Linked DNA regions of Homo sapiens: region 1 is linked to region 2. Evidence: fine-mapped expression QTL. A gene starts in region 2. The other region holds a variant in brackets. All regions are shown on one strand. Distances are from middle to middle.

What was found. PIP is the estimated chance that this variant, and not a neighbour inherited with it, causes the effect.
Region 1: its variant is the best candidate, but not a certain one, in a credible set for the expression of PTPRO in blood mononuclear cells (TOPMed, PIP 0.71).

What each region holds. Positions count from the first base shown.
Region 1 is chr12:15,597,000-15,606,804 of GRCh38, reverse strand. It overlaps PTPRO (protein tyrosine phosphatase receptor type O), which reads right to left. Exons shown (of 27, transcript NM_030667.3): 27 at 8,474-9,805. Among named protein-coding and RNA genes, the nearest start is that of EPS8, 190 kb to the left of the region's middle. The variant C/A (reference allele first, on the strand shown) is at 5,734.
Region 2 is chr12:15,317,453-15,327,257 of GRCh38, reverse strand. It overlaps PTPRO (protein tyrosine phosphatase receptor type O), which reads right to left and starts at 4,750. Exons shown (of 27, transcript NM_030667.3): 1 at 4,457-4,750. The coding sequence starts at 4,531. The region is part of intron 2 of LOC105369673 (a long non-coding RNA gene); the gene reads left to right.

The DNA of each region.
Region 1 (9,805 bases), 280 kb before region 2:
AGCAGTTTTTCGGGAAATGCTCAGTTGTTTTTTGTTTTTGTTTTTATTTTGAGTGGGGGGCGCACTTGGCAGAACTATCTTCTAATACCCAAATGTTCAGATTTATCTCATCACGTTTGTGAAAGAAAGGTTAAAAAATGAAAAGTTAGTATAATTCTGATAAGATAGCATTACTAAGAACTACACAATTAAACGTGAAGGTGAATTGGAGGAAGATGTGGCTATTACGTGCTCTGAGAGAACTAAGGTCCCGGATGTGGATTTCTGTATGAACTGGTTATCTTAACAGTTGAAATGCCTTCGAAAGAGCTTTGGGCACATCACCTTGAGCTTGGTGCTGGAAGGAGGTGTGCGATGAGCCAGGACTGCTGAGGGGCCCAGATGGTCCTGGTCCAGGCGGCTCTCACGGCTCTTTCCTTCCTGACTGTAGTCCCAGGCAGTTGGCCCAATTCCTGCTCCATTTCTGGGCTGCCTCGGGTGGGAAAGCTCTGCATATGGAGTAGAATATAATTTCCCCATGTTCAATCATTCCTGTTTCCTCCAAAAATGAAATGAAGGCCCTTTCAGCCCATGGAAAAATGGAATAAAGCACACATGCATACACACACACACACACACGCACACGCACACGCACACACAAACTGGCCAGAAATTGAAATCTCTAGATCTTTCACAGTTTGTCCTGTTTCATTGTTTCTTACTCTGAACTGGTACCATATGACAAGGCCTTCTGCCCTCCCATCTATTCTAAGGAAAGGGAAACAGGAACTGAATTCATGTGTGCTGAGCACTTTCACATATATCCCACTTTATAAGAGAGGAAATTGAAACCCAGATAAGTTAGGTAGCTTGTAAAAGATTACAAAGTGGACAACTGAATTTGGACTCAATTTCTTGGACTTCTATATATCATGCAAACTTTTTTTCTCTCATGTATTATATAGGTCAGTGTATACAACAATTTAAGCAGAAAAAGCACTTTTTTAAAAAATGAAATTTTATATAGTATGCCTCCATATAACACAGGTAAAATCAGCACTGAAGATGCAGAGAGGAGTCCGGGAGCTTTATTTGGAAATCTCTGGACCTTGGAACTCCAGGTCCCATGAAGGCCCTTGCGGGTGGACATGAAGGTAGACTGGACAGTGGTTGTTCCAGGCAGCAGTTGAACCAGGAGATATAATTCTCAGTTGCAAAGGTCATTTGCATCTGTGGGGAATTTCAGATGACTGACCACCTCCTCAAAGCGCTATTTTGTTTAGATAGAAAAATTAGCTTTGGACGTTCTCTCATAGGTCCACATTTATGCTTTGGAATCGACATTACATAAAATACCAAGAAATCAGGGCAAAAATTACTGGATCTTAGTCTCAACCCTGCTCGTAATAGCCAGGCCCAAACTAGGAGTAGATATACATTTGCTTCAAGTTAATCTGTGGTGTGGTTTATTCAGTAAACACAACGACAGTGTCCTCTCCAGCTCTTAGGAGGTATGTGGGAAAAGGATTGATTTGTCTTTCACTAGTGAAGGAACCTAGCAGCAGAGCTATTGGAACATAGGCTAAAAGAGGCTAAGACAGGTGCCATGAGCTGTTGCTAGCTCATAAAATATAGCTCTTCTGAGATCACACCACTGCACTCCAGCCTGGGCGACAGAGCGAGACTCTGTCTCATACACACACACAAAATACAGCTCTTTGCAAGGTAAGCAGGTCATGGTGTTAATAGCCTGTAGCAACCTCGTATCTTGCAGTATATAAGTAAGGGCGCACTTTTTATTAGGAAAACAGCACAGGGAAGTTAGTCTATTGCCTCATCTCCAAAACCAATCTTATTATAGGATGGAATTTGGAAGTCTGGGTAATTTGTTTCATTTGCATTGCAGCAAATGGAAAAAAAAAGAATGAGAAAATGACTATTGTTATACCTTGGTGACAGCGCAGTGGATTTACAGAACGCAAATTAAAACAGATATCTGAAATTGCCTGGATGCTTCCAAATTCTTTTATTATTTTTTCCAACTGAGTTTTCCACCCCAATATGTGACATGTATGTGCAAACAAAACTTCTGCCTCTTTTTTTTTTTTTGACGGAGTTTTGCTCTGTCGCCCAGGCTGGAGTGCAGTGGCGTGATCTCGGCTCACTTCAACCTCTGCCTCCTGGGTTCAACCGATTCTCCTGCCTCACCCTCCCGAGTAGTTGGGACTGCAGGCATGCACCACCACGCCCAGCTAATTTTTTTATATATATTTTTAGTAGAGACGCATTTTCACCATACTGGCCAGGCTAGTCTGGTGTTGAACTCCTGACCTCAGGTAATCTGCTGGCCTTGGCCTCCCAAAGTGCTGGGATTACAGGAGTGAGCCACTGCGCCTGGCCAAACCTCTGCCTCTTACGGGAGCTGCTGACTCCAAGTGTGGCAGCACTTCATGGGTTGGGTTGTTACTGCTGCTCTGGGAGCTGACCTTGTGTAGGGGGCATGCTCATGCTAAGGGCGCCCATGTGGGACTGAGAAATCAAAGGGGCACACTCACTCTGTAGATGTCTTGGTACTGAAAGGAGTAGGTGGGTTTGGTGGCCTAAATGCACTAAGAGAGGGAGAGATTTGGAAATTTGAAGAATCATACTGCATTTATGCTATGCTGACTCTGCCAGGTTTTTGGCCGGTGCTTTACACAACCAGTTATAAGTTTTACCACAACTTGAAAACGTAGATATTATTTTTTTATTGTGGGAACACTTAGGCTGAGAAATAGTAGGTGACTTCTCAAGGCCACACTGCTAGTCAGCATAAGAGCACAGAGTTCTGTGACTCTGAAGACTATACTTTCTCAATTATGCCATTCTGTACCCTCAGACCACCAGGCACCATGCCAAGGGCTTTACATTTAATCCTCAGTGCAGCCCTGTGGAGGAGGCTCTTATTATTGCCATTAACAAACAAGGAAACCAGTTCACAGAGGGATTAAGTGGTGCTCACAAGCGGTGTCTGTTCACGCCAAGCATCTCTTCTTAACTTGACCCAGGCGTATGTACATATTAAGGTTTGTACAAATTGGCTGTCTTGTCTTAGAAGCAGTCAGCTCTCTAGATATAGTTTTAGTGCAAGGAATTTGTGCAGATTATCTGTACAGCTGCAGACATCTTCATGGAATGTAAATTAGGTGCTGACATTGCTTTTCTGGGAAACCCGCTAGCATAGATTACATACACTGGACATAAAACACACACATTGGTAATACATTTGCTAGTAAAGAATTGGAAATCCAGGCCTGGGAAATCCAGGACTCTTATCTGGAACACTAGCTTCTGCTTTTGCATCAAATGCCTATGACACAAGGTCATCCACATTGGGTCACAGACTATACCTCTTTTATATTCCAAGGTCTGTGACTGTGAGGGTAGCTGCCAGGGGAGGGGGTTCAGGTGTCACCCTGGAAAAACCCAGTCAGTCTAGGTCAGATACCAGCTTCAGATGCTCTTACCAAGTCTATTGAAGACTATCAGGATGGCCCTTAGAGACTGTGGGAGATTGGCTTGTAACAGGGTGGTATGTAATGTACTAAACTATTCCTGGTATTGTTTTCAGATCCTTACACATGTTATCTTCTGATGCCCTATGCAATGGACTGAATTTGCCCCCAAAATTCATATGTTGAAATCCTAATCCCTAATGTAATGATATTAGAAGGTGGGGCCTTTGGGAAGTAATTATATCATAAAGGTGGAACCTTCATGAATAGGATCAGTGCCCAGATAAAAGGAACCCCAGAGAGCTCTCTTGCCTTGTTTCTGCCATGTAAGCATACAAGAAGGCAGCTGTCTGCTACCCAGAAGAGGGCTCTCACCAGAACCGACCATGCTGGCATCTTGATCTTGGACTTACTGCCTCCAGAACCGTAAGAAATATTTAAAGCCACCTAGTTTATGGTGCTTTGTTACAGCAGCCCTGACTAAGACTCCCTATGTGAAAGCTACCATCAGGATGTCATTTCATAGATTAGATGACTGAGTTATATGTAGTCAGGAGCAGAGACTTAGCTCAAGCCTCTCTTCAACCACAGTCCCTTATTCTAAGCCCCTCTGCTCTGCTGTCCTGCTGGACCCTGTCCTGTGTCACTTCCCAAGTTCATTGGTTAAGGGGCAATATGATCTAATTTGGTTTTGGACATGAAGGAACCTTTCTAAGACCATCCTGTTTTATATTTATAAAGGATGTAGTGGTTACAGTTAACTTTTTCTAGTTTAAACTGCCCTTTGAACTTTTTGGTGCTCTTAGAACTGAACAAAAATATTTCGTGTCAGCTGGCTTTGAACTGTGACCATGGCCCTGGAACGCACCAGGACACGCACAAAATGTAAAGGATTGGGTTGCCCAGCATCACTCCAAACACCAAGCCTCATGGGCTCCTGTATGTGTGAGCTTTTGTTGATGTGAAACCACTTTGGGGTATATTGTTAATAGGAATCCAGGAGTCTGATTCAGAGGCAATGGCCTAGTGTAAGGGTAAGAAGTTCTAGTGGGTGTCCTGAGTCATGGTCTTATGATGGGGTGTGAAAAGCAATGACAACCAAAAGATCAGGAGAGATCTAACCTGGAGGAAAACAACTTATAAAGAAGAATTCATATATTTCTGTTAAAAAGTTTATTTATTAAAGGAACCATTATTGCTTTTGTGGCCTTTCCTGAACCCTTGTTTTGCATTGTGGGTTTACTTTGCTCTGCACTGCTTCATCTTTAACTGTCTTCTGGGAATTTTACTGGGCAGTCACACACCATTGCTCTGAAAACTTCCTATTGTAACTTAGATGGAACATTGTTGTAAAGGTTATCCTTGTGCTGCCATATTAGTTAAGGGCAGGTTGATTGCTGTAACTGACAATGACCAAGTTTCAGTGACAATGCAATAGAAATCTATTTCTTGATCACATAATGGGCCAATGCTACCAGATATCCCTGCCCCAAGTGGTGATTCAGGGACCCAGAGTCCTCCTATCTGTGGCACCACCATCTGTGTTGGGGTAGAGGAGAGGGAGAGAGAGAAAGAGACATACACACATTCACAGTCACACACACACAGAGAGAGAGAGACAAGAAAGAAGAGGGGTGGGGGAGGGTGGAATGGAAGGTTGCTCCTGGGTAATTTTCATGGTCCAGAGGCCAGGAAGCACACATTCCATTGCCCAGAACTCTGCAAAGGGTCTTGAAAAGTAGTCCCAGTATGCTCTGTTAGGTTTGCAGTAAGAGTAAATCCACTAGATTCTGCTGAGTGATACATGAGCTGGAGCTGTTTGTGGACATCTTAAGAGAAATGGTCCCCTTGGAAGGTGCCAAGAAGAATAGGTTCAGAAGGCAGGGTGGGAGGATTAGTCATCCATATGGGCCCCAGTGACTGATGCATACTGGGTGTTTCATGTTTGCTGAATGAGCAATGAATGTTCCTCTTTAGTATTGCTTAATGTGGCCCTATAGTTATTAGTACTTTAATATAGTAGTATAGTGTTTCCTGACCCTTCTAGAAAAAAAAGATCACCTATCCTTCCCTTGGACCTATATTGGATACTTTTTGTGTTTCTATCACGGTGTCTGTTACACTTTGTTGCCCTTATTTTTACTTCTGATTTCCCCTATTAGAATGTAAACTAGAAGCAAGAATCTTGTTGCATCCATCTTCATAGCCATAGCCCCTTCTACGGTGCCTGGCATGAAAGGTTCAATAAATAAATGATTTT[C/A]TTAGAAGGTTAGAGATTTACCATTTCTCAAATTGAATGTCTGCCCTCTATATTAAACACATTACCTGGAGATGAATCTATTAATTCCATCCTACTGCACTTTATCCATGCTAAGTATGAACGAGAAACAGCATGAAGTTGTGGGGGAAAAGGTTTAGGGCTGGGCAGAGCTGGCCGGGAATCCTGCTTCTGCCACTTTCTAACCCTGTAGTTGTAATTTAACTACGCTGCCTCTTCACCTTATTGTCTCTCAACTTCGTCACCTGGGAAATGAGTATTCTCACTTCCTAATGATGTTTTGAAGTTGAGGATATGAACATAAAGGGATTAGCACATTAGAAAGAAACCCCCATTGCTCCCTGAGTCAGGTGCCATCTCCTTTGCTGCCAAGTGAGAAGCCAGTCCGGTATTCAAAGCAGCCACAGAACCTGATCTTTTTTTTTTTTTTCCAAGATGGGGAAGTAGATTTGGGCTTCAAGCCTATGCCCATGAGGGGCACAGACTCATACATTCTTAATATTAGTAAGGTCCTTGGATGTGTAAACAAAAGAAAAAATGCTTTGCTACCTTAGAAGCAATTCCTCCCTCTAAAAGTGTTCTGTAGAAAAGAATTAGCCATCCACCAGGAACACGGTGGAGGAGACTCTTGTTATGAGCAGGAGGGCAGGACTAGTTTGGTGACTCTCATCAAGCAAGAGCGATCATGTCAGGCTTTCTAGTGGTTTATGAGTAAAAAAACAATGAACATTTGTTGTTTCTGTTATATAAGCCATTGAGGAAAATATTGAACATCATTAAATATGATGGCTGGTGAGTATGTCCAGAAGATATGTTGACGAAGTTTTGGAAGATATAAATAAAAATGTTGAAAAAGACTTGGCTAAGGCTTTCTTGAACATTCCAACAACAGTATTAAAACTGATTATATAGCCTATTTTTAAAAGCCTTCATATTTGTGCTTACCATAGGGCCTAGCATATTGCAAGTGGTCAAGAAACCTTAGATGGATTGATTGAGTGATTCCTACAATATGATTAGATAAACACACATTTGTTGACTGAGTGATTCAATAAATGACTTCCTTTACTCCAGATTTAATAGCCCCAGTTTTCCCAGGTTTTGTTATCATAACCTGTTATTTCTCCACATTTCCGGTGGTTCTAGTGACAATGTCTGGACAGCCTTCAGTCTGTTCATGACCCTCCTGTAATGCAACTCCCAGAGTTAAACCTTATACTTCATCTTTAATCCAGTGACCCACCAGGAAAAGGCCTTGTGATAATCACCAGATAAAACTAAAAGCAAAAAATCTTACTGTTCTGGAAGGCCAGGGGTCAGAGATGTCACAGCTGAAATTTCCTTCAAATGGTTCCAAATGAGGCTATTAAAAGTCAGGGGTGGAAGTCTGCAGGTTTTGCATGTTATATTTTGTTGCTTTATAACCCCTTTGGCCAAAGTGAATGTTATAATCAGCGATGGGCATGACTCTCAGACTTCATCGCTGTGCCAAGTACCAGACTAGAGATCTGTGAGCTAGGAAGCGAGCCAGCTATTTGAAGCACATTACATCAGACATTTCCTGAGGTGTAAAGGAAGGCCTCCTTGCTAGAAAGCAGGGAGAATTTTGGCTCTTAGAGGTTGGACTCAGTAACTTTAACTCCTTGGCTAAGGGCCAATCCTCTAGCAAGCAGCTATCAAGTAGCCTGCAGAAAATTCAAATCCAAAGCATCTGATCCTGCTTTGCCTGTTGACACCACAGCCTCATTTGAGAGCTGTGTCACCTTTTTGGGAGTAGGAACAGCTTTTAGGAAAGGAGAGACATTATAAAATCTGACATTAAAAAAAAGTAGTAACTTTTCTAGTTTTACATTTTGGAGGCAATGTTGTCTTTACAGTGGGAAATTGTAGACCCCGAATTAAAATGCTTTTCCAAAAAATGCTGTCATCCATCACTTTTTTCAAGTTAAACGAAATCATCATATGAAGTAATGGATATACTGCTGTCAACTATTACATTTATTAATTAGATCCTAATGGTAGTTTCTCAATTAACTTCATAAATTATCTTTTGCAGCCAAGGAATTTGATCTCAATAGCCCTCAAGGCCTGGTGTGGTGGCTCACACCTGTAATTCCAGCACTTTGGGAGGCTGAGGTGGGGGGGTCACCTGAGGTCAGGAGTTTGAGACCAGCCAGGCCAACATGGTGAAACCCTGTTTCTACTAAAAATACAAAAAATTCGCTGGGCGTGGTGGCACGCACCTGTAATCCCAGCTACTCAGGAGGCTGAGGCAGGAGAATCGCTTAAACCTGGGAGGTGGAGGTTGCAGTGAGCCAAGGTCACGCCATTGCATCAATACACCCCAGCCTGGGCAACAGAGAGAGGATCTGTCTCAAAAAAAAAAAGAAAAAAAAAATAGCACTCAAAATGAAATGTTTTGTAACGCTCAAGTTTTTAGATCTTTTTGTGTGCCATACAGGCTATTATGAACACATGCACTAAGGCCCCTGTGTTCTTTTAGAACAAAGCATTACTCAAATGAATTTTAAAAACCCTAGTTAATAATACAGAGGCTCTGGAAGCCTCCCTTCTGAATGCTTAAAGTTGGGTCCTGGTGTGGAAACAGAACTGGTTAGAGTAGCCTTACGGAACATACATGAGAGAACAAGACACAAAGCACCTTTGGGTCAATTATCGTATCTGATACTTCTTATACCTGTTGCAAGATATGGAGTTATGATTAGGTCATTCTTCAGTTTATTAACTGAGACCCAGGAGAGATAATTCCAAAGTCATTATCAGGATTAAACAAGTCTTTTGACAGACTGATGCCTTTTCCATCATAAACTCTACAAACTGAAGAGCAACAGTGTTCCAGAGAACAGTGTGACCTTCCTGTAGTTTTGACTCTAAGCCTTCAGTCTAAACTCTGGATACTTCCTCTTTCCTTTTGGGAAAATTGATCTGGCACTATTTGATCCCTACCTTGAAAGGGTGCTCAAGAAAAACATAAAATATTTATGAAGTGCTTTGTTTCATGGGAAGCAATGTTCCAGGATGCAAAACTTCTGTATGCTCTGAGCAGCAGTGTTGGAAACGTACTTCAGCTTACCATACATTGTATCAGCTCTTCCAAGGTTGCACATTTCACTCCTGACTGCCCATGTGTGAAAATCTAAGAATGTCACACATCCCTTTGCCACCTTTCATTAACCATGTTTGTTCCTGAGAATGGTGCGACACATTATTAAAATGTCCAAAAAGGGAAATAAAGGAGTCGGGGGTGAGAAGAAGAGGAGGAGGTGGTAGCAGGGAGGTGAGTAGGAACTGACAACCCCTGAGGAGCCCAAGCTGTTAACCTGCAGGGTATGGGCATCCTCTGCCATTCACCCTGCAAGGTGAAACTGAGACTCACTGGCCAGATCTTGCAAGAAACTCTGCCAAGGTCTGCCATGGCCAAGCCTTTTCAGTGACAAGAGACGGTGGGGTGCAGAGCTGTTCATTTGGCATCCTTCACCAACACTAAGGTCACTGATAAAATATTAAGCTGATCTTATATCTGTGGCTTCATGAAGATGATCAGGGATGGAGGGAAGCCAGGGAAGGGGCAGTGTCGGGTGCATGAAGAGGAGCAAAGCCTCCTGGAAGCACACACACGGAGGCTCACAATAGCCACAGTTGCCACAGGGAAGCAGCCAGCTTGTGTTTACTTTCAACTCAAAGTGTTTTCTGTTGTATATCCATGTCATCACCTCTTATTTATCAGGAAGTGACACAAAGTAACAGGCTTCACAATGCCATCAATGTCATTTTGACAGCATTCATGTCACAATACACAATCATGTACTGTAATTATACAAAATCCAAAGAATAAAATGTTACTAGTTACACTCGTTAAAATGAAACTGACAACCAAAAGAATAACAAAACAAAAAGAAATCTCTGTCAGAATCCATAGAGACATTTGACAATATTACAAAAAAAAGTAGTCAAATAATTGTCCCAGCATGCTGCAGTTCATTGCCATAACTTCATAAATTCCCAGCTCTTTGGGGGAAAGAAAGTGCGTTTT
Region 2 (9,805 bases):
GAATATTACATTTCTGGGAAAAATAACTGATATTTTAATTTATGGTTTTAATAAGATTCTAATATAAGTGATTGGTAAAATTTTTACTATTTGAATGTAATGAGTGCATTGTAGTTATGATTATTTAACTCCCATAATGATAATTTTCCTATATTTTCCTTAAAGATGTGTTCACAAGTCAATATTACAATATTTCATAATTCTCAGTCAGAGCTTTTATATAATGCAGAAAATTTAAATCTGTTTATTAACCTTCTATTAAATTCCTAACACCACATACTAGCACCATGAAAGATAGAAATATTACAGTAGACATTCCTTTATTTCAAAAATATTTACAACATATTTGGAGTAATTAAATGAAAACATTAAGTGCTTTACAGTAAAGCTCATCACTGCACTGGGATATGTTTCTGAAAATGCAACATCACTGAAACTGTGTACGGAGAGGCATTAAATTAGGGGAAAATGAAAACTTGTGGTCATTGTTGTTAAGCCTTCTATTGTGCCACACTGCTACCAATTACAATGTTTTACTTAAGTGCATCAACTGTATCTGACATCAAACATTCTTTTACAACCCCTCAAGTTAGAATTATATTTATAAGGTTCAGGAGTAAATCTGCTTATACGTTTAAATACCTTTAAGTTGGATATTTAGATAGTAGAAATAGTGTTACATTTTAAAATAAAGTACAACTCATATTGTTTTTAATCAGTTATCCACATAAATGTGCATTTTCTTTTGGGCCAAAATGAGGCAGAGGTGTAATGTGAATTTTTCATTCCTTCACACAACGATAGTCTCTCACAAAACAAAGAACAAAAGGAAACATATGTTCACAGTGGGAAGGATTATTACTCGATCATCTGTAGAAGCATGGCCCAGGGAGCCTTTGCCAACCTACTGGGGATGTCACATGTAAAAAGGTTTCTCCAAAAGGTTGGCAATATGATTTATTAAAGGAGTCAGATGACATGGGAGTTAAGGGCAGCAAACTTCATTGTGATGGAAAGGATCTAAGCTGCTCCAGCAAAATGAAAGGATTATGGTTCACCTGCCAACACTGTGCAATTTATGGATGAAACCTCAACCACGAAAAGTGAAACTTCTTTGTGTGTGTGTATGGGGTTGCGAGGGGAGACATAGGAAAGGAAAGGCAGACAGACCGTGGAAAACAGATATTTCCCCTGGATAAGAGTAGAATGGCCAGTATCATAACACTCATGTATTATAGAATTAAATATAAACCTGTTTCAGAAAGTACAATATTAAGACCCTTTTTAAATTTGATATTCTTTGATGATATCTCTGGTAAAAGCAGAAATAGAAAGAAATAGAGAGAAGGGGTTAAAAAAGAAGGACACACGCCAAGCACTTGAGTTTAGGAATATATTCCAGCTGACTACTAAAAAGCAACATTTCAGGGAAGGCCAACTTCAAATTCCTATGATGTCATATTCCACGATTTGCACCTTAGTAGACAAAGTACTTATACTGAGTAAACTGATACAGGAAGACATTTTCTAGGAGGGCTTTAGTAAAGATAGGACAAGTGTAGGAAGTTACATTTCTTTCACTGGGAATTATGGGAAGACACACAACAGCGAGGCTCGCCAGATAAATACCTCACTTGCATTCATCCATAGAAGACTTTGAAATTAGTAGCCTTCAATATAATAACAGAGTTCCATTTTTTCTTCTATTTTATATACACCATCAATATTGATATAAAAATAAAAATTTTCATAACCAACATTGTGTTTAGGCAAGATAAATTATGCAGATATTAGCTTCATAATGTGCAGTGAATGATTTAGACAGTCTGAGATGCCCGATTATATGTGCTCATCACTGCTCCATGGATAAGGAACGATGGCACAAAGACCTTCTTGGCCAGTCACATTTAGTCTCCCTCAATGGAACTGATTATAGCCATTCATACACATTCAAACTTTCCTACTTTTCCACCACTGATATCCAGCTGCTTATTTTTGAGTTGTGGAAAATGTAAAGCTGTAAATTAAGCCTCATACTTGAATTTCTCTGTCTTATTTTCCTTCAGAATTTTCACTCTTATATAAAGGATACACATATGGAGTAGTGAAAAATGTATTAACTATAGTGAAAACTATGGAAATTATTTTGGCAAGGGAGAGTTGAGAGAATGTTTCATTTCTGACTCGGCACACGTGGAACATTTTGGATTTTATTATTGAGATACAGTTAGCAGTTTGGTATTTAATAATGAATTTTTTCTCATCCTCCAGTCACAACCTGCTTGAGTAGATCTGTTTTACTGGCACTTAATCAGGACCTTTAATTCAAAAATATCTCCAAATTATAAAGAGATTATACCATGTGCCCAACGCACCATGTAATATACTATCCTCTAAATGTAAGATATTACACTGTGTGCCCAATTTACCATTTTTTTTGAACAACTCTTGTCAACTGCAGCAAAATAGGATTAAATGAAATAACGTATGTAAAATGCCTAAAAAACCAGCACATAGAAGGTATTTAATATATACAGTTTTTTCTTCTTTCCTCTGATATAGTTTATATTCAGGTGACAAAAATATTACATTCACATAAAATAAAGGAAAATGATTTTTCTTACAAAATTATGTGTCCCACTACAATAATTATTATTTAAATGGCAAACTTTGCCAATGTATTTACTATGGAAGCAGTTTGCCATAATTTACATTTACCTGCAATGTTCAGGAATATACCTATTATGTGAAGCAGGCTGGACCTCTATGACAATCACTAACATTTTCATTACACCATCACTAACTGCATTTTCTCATTCCAATATCGAGTTTTAAGTCAAACAATGGCCACATTTATTTTATTTTAATTGCAAAACCTTACCCCCACTCCCAACCAAGTCATTCTCTTATTTCTGGAATTATCTCATTATGAAGAACTCACGCAAAAACCTGCAGTTGTGCTAAACGTTAGGTTTGGATCAGATGTCATACATATAACTCTTAGCTGTTGCTCGTAAAATGCATAGTGACTTGGTTTCTAATTTTTGGTTCATGACAATTATTGCATAGGTAAAATAGTTGTGACAGTTTGATAAATAGTTAGAAAACGACTAATAGACAACCTAATAAGTCTAATGCATTTATGATGTGTATGAAAGAACAACCTCCTACAGTAAAAACATATAACTGAGCTTATTATTTACCATACTTTAAAATTAATGATTATTGATAATTTAAGAAAAAATGTTAAAACATATTAAATATATTTTAAGGTCTTACTTAGGCATTCTGTTGCTGTTTCTCCCTGAATTTTTTTTATATTTTTCATTAAGATAAATGAAAATATGGAGTATTTAAAAGTAATGCTGTTCTTAATCCATTGGTCCTGTTCCATTATATTCTTTTTAGGCATTCATAATTAATGGTGCATATAAGCAAGAAGTGACTCTATAATAAGAAAACCTTTGGATCCATTAACCTGGCATCCATTTCTAGGGAAGGTATCACTGTGGTCCTGAAAGGATAGCTCCAAGTCACCTGTCGACATTCTTGAGTTTGCTTTGCGGAGAGAGGAAAAGACTAACAACAGAACTAAAGTAGATCCACTGAAGACATGAGTGATAGACAATCACTTCAGAACTTCACATCGCCGTCCAAGAAAACATCTAGCTGACATTTCTTCAAAAAAATTTATGTACAGTATAGTTGTCAAACTGATTTTTCAAAAGCAACTCCTTTGCTTTTCATTTTTCTCAAAGTAAAACCTCAGGGTAGCACATTCCAAAGAAGATACGAAAAAGTTTATTATTATATATTTTTCCACCATTAAATCTAGGGGTAATATCATCTGTAAATATAGTGGAGAAAGTCTGGAGACTTTTTAAAAGGAATTGTAAAGATGTTGATAGGAGTTGGGGAGAGGAATCCTTACCAAGCTCTCTACCTGACACTCCTTATTCAAAGAAAATTCTGCCCTAACGTAGCCCTGGCAGTCCATTTGTGTCCAGGGAGCTCAGTCCCCCTCCACTCTCCAGTGTATAATTCCAGCAGTAAGGAAAATTAAGACAAAGCATTCTGTGCGAGGGAGGGCGGAAAGGTTAAGCAGCGTTGGGGTGCAGTGGAAACCAGAAAAGAAAGTGACCTCATTTTGCCTGAGAAAGCACGATCCAACAAGCCCACCTTTGATGTGGATTTCAGCAGCGATAAAAGAGCACAAAGGGCGAAAGCCGGAGGGAGCAAACTTCCCTTATTCTTCCCCCCGCCCCCTACCTCTCAAGACCACCAGGAACACGCACACGCGAGGACAACAAAGCGTGCGCCCAGGCTGCACGGCAGGCGCTTCCCGCGGCTGGGCCATCGTGCCCTGGGGCGCGCCGCTCCCAACGGCAGAGCGAGGGCGCCGGAGCGCGGCTGCCGCCCGGACCGCTGGGAAAAAGGGGTGGAGGAGCTCCCCTACCTTGAACAGCACAAAGAGCCAGAGCAGAGGCAGGAGGCGGCGGGCGCCGTGTATCCCCGTGGGCAGGTGCCCCATCGCTGCGCGGACGGGGACTCGGGGGCACGGCTGCGCTAGCGGACTCCCCCGGCGGCGGCTCACAATGGCGAACTGGGGCTGCAGCCTCAGACCCTGGGCGCCGAGGTTGCTCCTGGCGAGCGCATGCTGCCTTTCCAGTCCCCCTGCGCCTGCTCCCTTTCCTCCTCTGCGCCCGGGGTCCTCCAAGAACGTGCCAGGCGCTGCTGTTCTTTAATGACTAAGGATGGAGAGGGTGGGGATTGGAGTGGGCGAGGCTCTGCCGCCGCCACCACCGCGGCTGCCAGAGGAGGCGCGGGGTCTGTGTGGTGAGCGAGAGGCGGGGACCCCGCGCCCAGCCCGCCGTAGTCCTCTGGCAGCAGGGACACTCTCACTCTGGCTGCCGACCCATAAAATGACAGCAGCCTCCCAACCCTCCACCAGGATCGGCCCGCTGCTTGCTACTGCTGGACAGCCCCCATTGCAGACTCCGCCTCAACCCCTCCCTCAATCTCTGGGTCTCAGGAGTTCTGAGGGGTTTCCCTGACCTCTCTTGAGCAATCCAGGCGCCAGATCCCAGTTCCCTCTCAATCTTCCTACATCTGTACTCAATTGCAGTTATAAAGGATCAATAACAGTTGGGTAGTTGTGACTGTAGAAATAGTGTGTAGTGTGAGTGTGTGAGTGTGTGTGATAGGAAGGGTATTTTCTCTCCTTCCCCACTGCTTCCATTATCTCCATCCCATTTCAACACTCTCACCGTCTCCGTCCCACACTCACCCAGGAACAAATAGCACAATTATGCACCTTTTCCATTTGAAATCCGCAGTTCTTGTACATTTCAGATTCTCTTTTGATACCAAAGTGTGTCGGGTCACCTGAAGCTGAATATAGAAGGGGGAAAAATCACAGTATTTTACATGTATGACCCTTGAACAACACGGGTTTGAACTGTTGGGTCCAGTTATATGCAGATTTTCTTCCACCTTTGCCAGCCTTGAGACAGCAAGACCAAACCCTCTTCCTCCTCCTCTGCCTGCTCAGCCTGAAAAGGATGACGTTAAAGACTTTTATGATAATTCACTTCCACTCAATGAATATAAATGTATTTTCTCCTCTTTATGGTTTTCTTAATAATATTTTCTGTTCTCTAGCGTACTTTATTGTAAGAATACAGTATACAATACATACAACACAAAATGTGTGTTAATCAACTGTTTATTATGTTATCAGTAAGGTTTCCGGTCAAGAGTAGGCTATTAGTAGTTAAGGTTTTGATGAGTTCAAAGTTATATGTGGATTTTCAACTACGTGATTCTCTGTGTTGTCCAAGTGTCAACGGTATGTACAGTTATATTTTTAAACAATTATCTGTGAATAATTTTACTGGGATGTTTTAGAATCACAAGCAACGACTTTCAAGCTGTGGGTCCCCAATCTACTACTTGTCTCCTTTTTTGTTATGTGTATTTTTTTAAAGATAAGTCTGTCGAAATCAACTCTGGTATGCACTGTTCAGATAGAAATCATTTCTTATTGTCATGTAAATTACCCTTGCTGTGCCCTGTCAGTATTGGAACTTATTTATACCTGAGACATGCTTGGGCAACAGGAGACAGGAAAGGCCACCCTGGTCATGAATGTAGGTGTTCAGGCATAGACTTTGTCAGTCACACAGCTAGGGAGTGGTGGCCTGAGAAAAGGATCCAGAGCTGTGTTTACTCAGCTTTTGCTGCATGAGCAATGGCCAAACACTAATCATTTGGTTGTTGTTTGTATGTGTCTTAAGGAAGCTTTAGATTGAATATGTTTACATAAGTGTGAATATGTATATATACACATGTGTACATGTACACATATGTGTACATGTACATATGTGTACACACATGTGTGTGCATGTACATATGTGTACACATATGTGTGTGCATGTACATATGTGTGTACACATATGTGTATGTGTGTACATAGATACATATGTGTATGCATACGTATATGTATATGTACGCATATGTATATGCATGGTACATATATGTATATATGTACCAAATTTCATATGCATGAAATATGTACCAAAATTCATATGCATGAAAATATAGAATGATGGTCTGAATTTTTGTGAGAATATTATCCTTGGTGTCTTCTTTTAGAAGCTTCTTTTGTTTTCACATTCCCATCACATGCTCTCTTCAGGTCCCTCATGTCCACTCATCATTGGTTTGGACATTTTCTTTCTTTTGAGAAAATGTTAACTGCTCCTCCCTCCCTCTGGGTTAGACTTACGGGCTATCTGAACATTTAATCCTTGGGATTGCACTTATAGGAACTTTGGTTTAATATGTTTTCTTTTTATTTTGACGCTCCTGAAGCAGCATTTTATTCCCACTCGCCCTCAGAAGTGGCTGTAAAGTGATCTAATCTCTAGAACATAAGATATATATAGGCCAAGGGCAACAATCACACTCACAGGATGCCAACAATTTCTCTTTGGAGTAGCATTTAATTTTAAAATGTGTCTGTGAATTATGGGTCTGTATGATGATATTCATTTGTGTGTATGCATATGTCTGTGTGTATACATGGATATAGCCTTGCCTGATGTGCGTAGGGCGTTTAAAGCAGTTCTGATCATAAATTAATCTTGTAAATGCTAAAAGAACTTTCACAATGAGGCTCCCTTTTAAATAATCATATTCTGCTGCGTCTTTCTGTTTTTCTCTTAGTCATACATCACAATTTGTTCAGCTCTTTCTGTCTTTGTGCATATATATATATATGTATATATATATATATATATATATATATTATGTGGACCACTTTGGAGGAACAATAACAGTAAACAGTAAGTAGTAAAGCATTAGTAATTGGCATTGTTGTTATTTTATTAGTAACATTGTGGTTAGATGGGCTGAAGACTGAAAGTATTATTTTATAATCACAGAAAATTTCCTCTCTAGAGAAAAGTATTTTACATTGCTATTGCTGGATAAAATACTTTCATTTGTTTTTATTGCACTTAAACCATAACAGTGTCCTAGAAGAGATTCTCATAAAGAATGTGAATGCTGTGTCATCCACAGTGTGGGGTTTTCAATTCATAGAGCATGTTTTGTGTTTCTTTGAGCTATTGACTGGTTTTTCAATACAATACTTCCAAAGTATGATAAATCTTATTATGCTATTTTCAAGACTCCAAATCAACAAAACAGCCAGGGGCAACATACAGTGCATATAGTAATTTATGTTTCACCAATTGCTTCTACATATTGGTCCAGATTTCATTATGACAACCACATTGTTAGGTAAAGAAGGCTGAGATCATTATCACCAACTGTTTTCCCCTAATGCTACTTTTCCTGGAGAAAAAATAAACACAGAAAAATAATAATATCTCTGACATGCCATAAAACAAGCATTGAAAAATAAGTTCTCACAAATTGAAATAAAGCTCTCTACTTCCTTTGAAAATTATAAAAAGGTGGTTAATGATCATGAAACTGGAAGGTCTTTTTAAAATCTATAGGAGGCTTAGTTTTTACCAAGAAAAGCGATCTTTTCCTAAATATGTAGAAATGTATCTTTGCCTACGTGGTTCACATCTATCTCTTCTATAGAAAAGCAAGCGCAGACACAGAGAAGCAGCTAGAATCCCTGTGAGAGGTTTAATGAGGAGTCAAATGGAACTCTTACGGTGCCCTTGCCAATGAAGCTCAATTCTGTCCTCCAGGGACAACCTCTAATGTAGTTGAGTGTGTTTAGTCCTGGCTTCCACTACTGAAATAGCCTACAAGGCTGTCAGCAGTTTCAGTATTAGATAATTGTATTTATGGGGGATGCTCAATGACAAATAATTTACTTTATATGGAATAGAAAGAAAAATTCAAGCAATTGTTCTCTAGACTCTATTCCATTGGAAAAGTAATAGCCATTCAGTTTGTTGTCCATATCTCACATGTTACAATTTTTATAGCATATGAACTGTAGATTATCTGTATTAAGCTCTTGGAAGAAAATGACCAGGAAGCATTTTGATTTTCTATTTATTTGAGCATTTGTTTTAATTTTTTCTCTTGATGAGCACTGGTTTCTCACCTAAATGATGTGTTGACAATTCATAAGTTTTGTGTCTTTCAAAATGAGAACGATTGACAGCCCTCAGGTGAATGGCATGTTCCAACTGCCAAGACTTATTACTCTTGCTGCACTTGAAAAACAGTGGAAATACGCTAAAGAAGGTCATTTTTGCTTTTACTTGGAGAGTCTTTTCCCATTATATTCCCCTCTCCCGCCGCAAAAGATTCCTATTAAGAGACCTATCTTACTTGTACTTGACTCTTACATGTCTTAAAGAAAATCAAATAAGAATATTGCATTACAAGATATGTCTTACAACACAAAATTATATACTTAAAGAAATAAGGAAACATACATAGAAAGTGTGAGCAGATATGCAGATATATATCACTGGACACAAATTACAGGCTATAGGATAAACAGCCCTACATTAGAAATGCAGATTGTCGTGTTTTTAGATATTATACCTTCATTCAGTCATATACTAGGATTCTGTTTGTTGCTAGCATTTCATTTAATTGCTCTAAAACTTTAATAAAAGGCATTAGCCTTAAGTTATATGATTTTATCTCATATTTTATTTATATGAAATGCCTTGACTAATGAACTTCTAAAATATTTTTTCTGAATGTTCCAGACATTGCTATCATTTACTAATTTAGCTTTTCTTCATAACTAGGTTTTTTGGCTAACTATAATTTAAAGTATTAGCATCACTGCACTGAGTGATTCACTTTAGCTTGGCATGAAAAGCAAGAATAGAACCTGAGTGTAATTTATAGCTAAAGCAAGACATAGTGTTTGCTAAGTGGAAATGGTATCTGCTGATGCTTCCTTCCCTTCCTTCTTTACTTCCCCTCAAATTAAAGGTGCAATGCAACATTTACAGTCAACTCAGTGTCACACATAGTGCCTACATATGTGCCACTTAAAAACAGCTACCAATATCTAATTATGAAAAATTTGGTGATGGTGATTTCAGGTGCTATGTAAAAACTATGAAAACATTAATCGCATATTTTGAAAATCCACTGCCTTAACTGCTAAGGGTTTTACCTCAGCAGTTATAGTACTATAGCAGGTATAACAACATTGCATTGACAATCATACTTCAAATCAATCACACCAAATCAATTTTATGCTGAAATTACAAAGCTAATGATATATTCAAATTTAACTGTGAGAGAAGGGGTAAAGAAGACCATACTCTGAAGAGATGAGGGGATG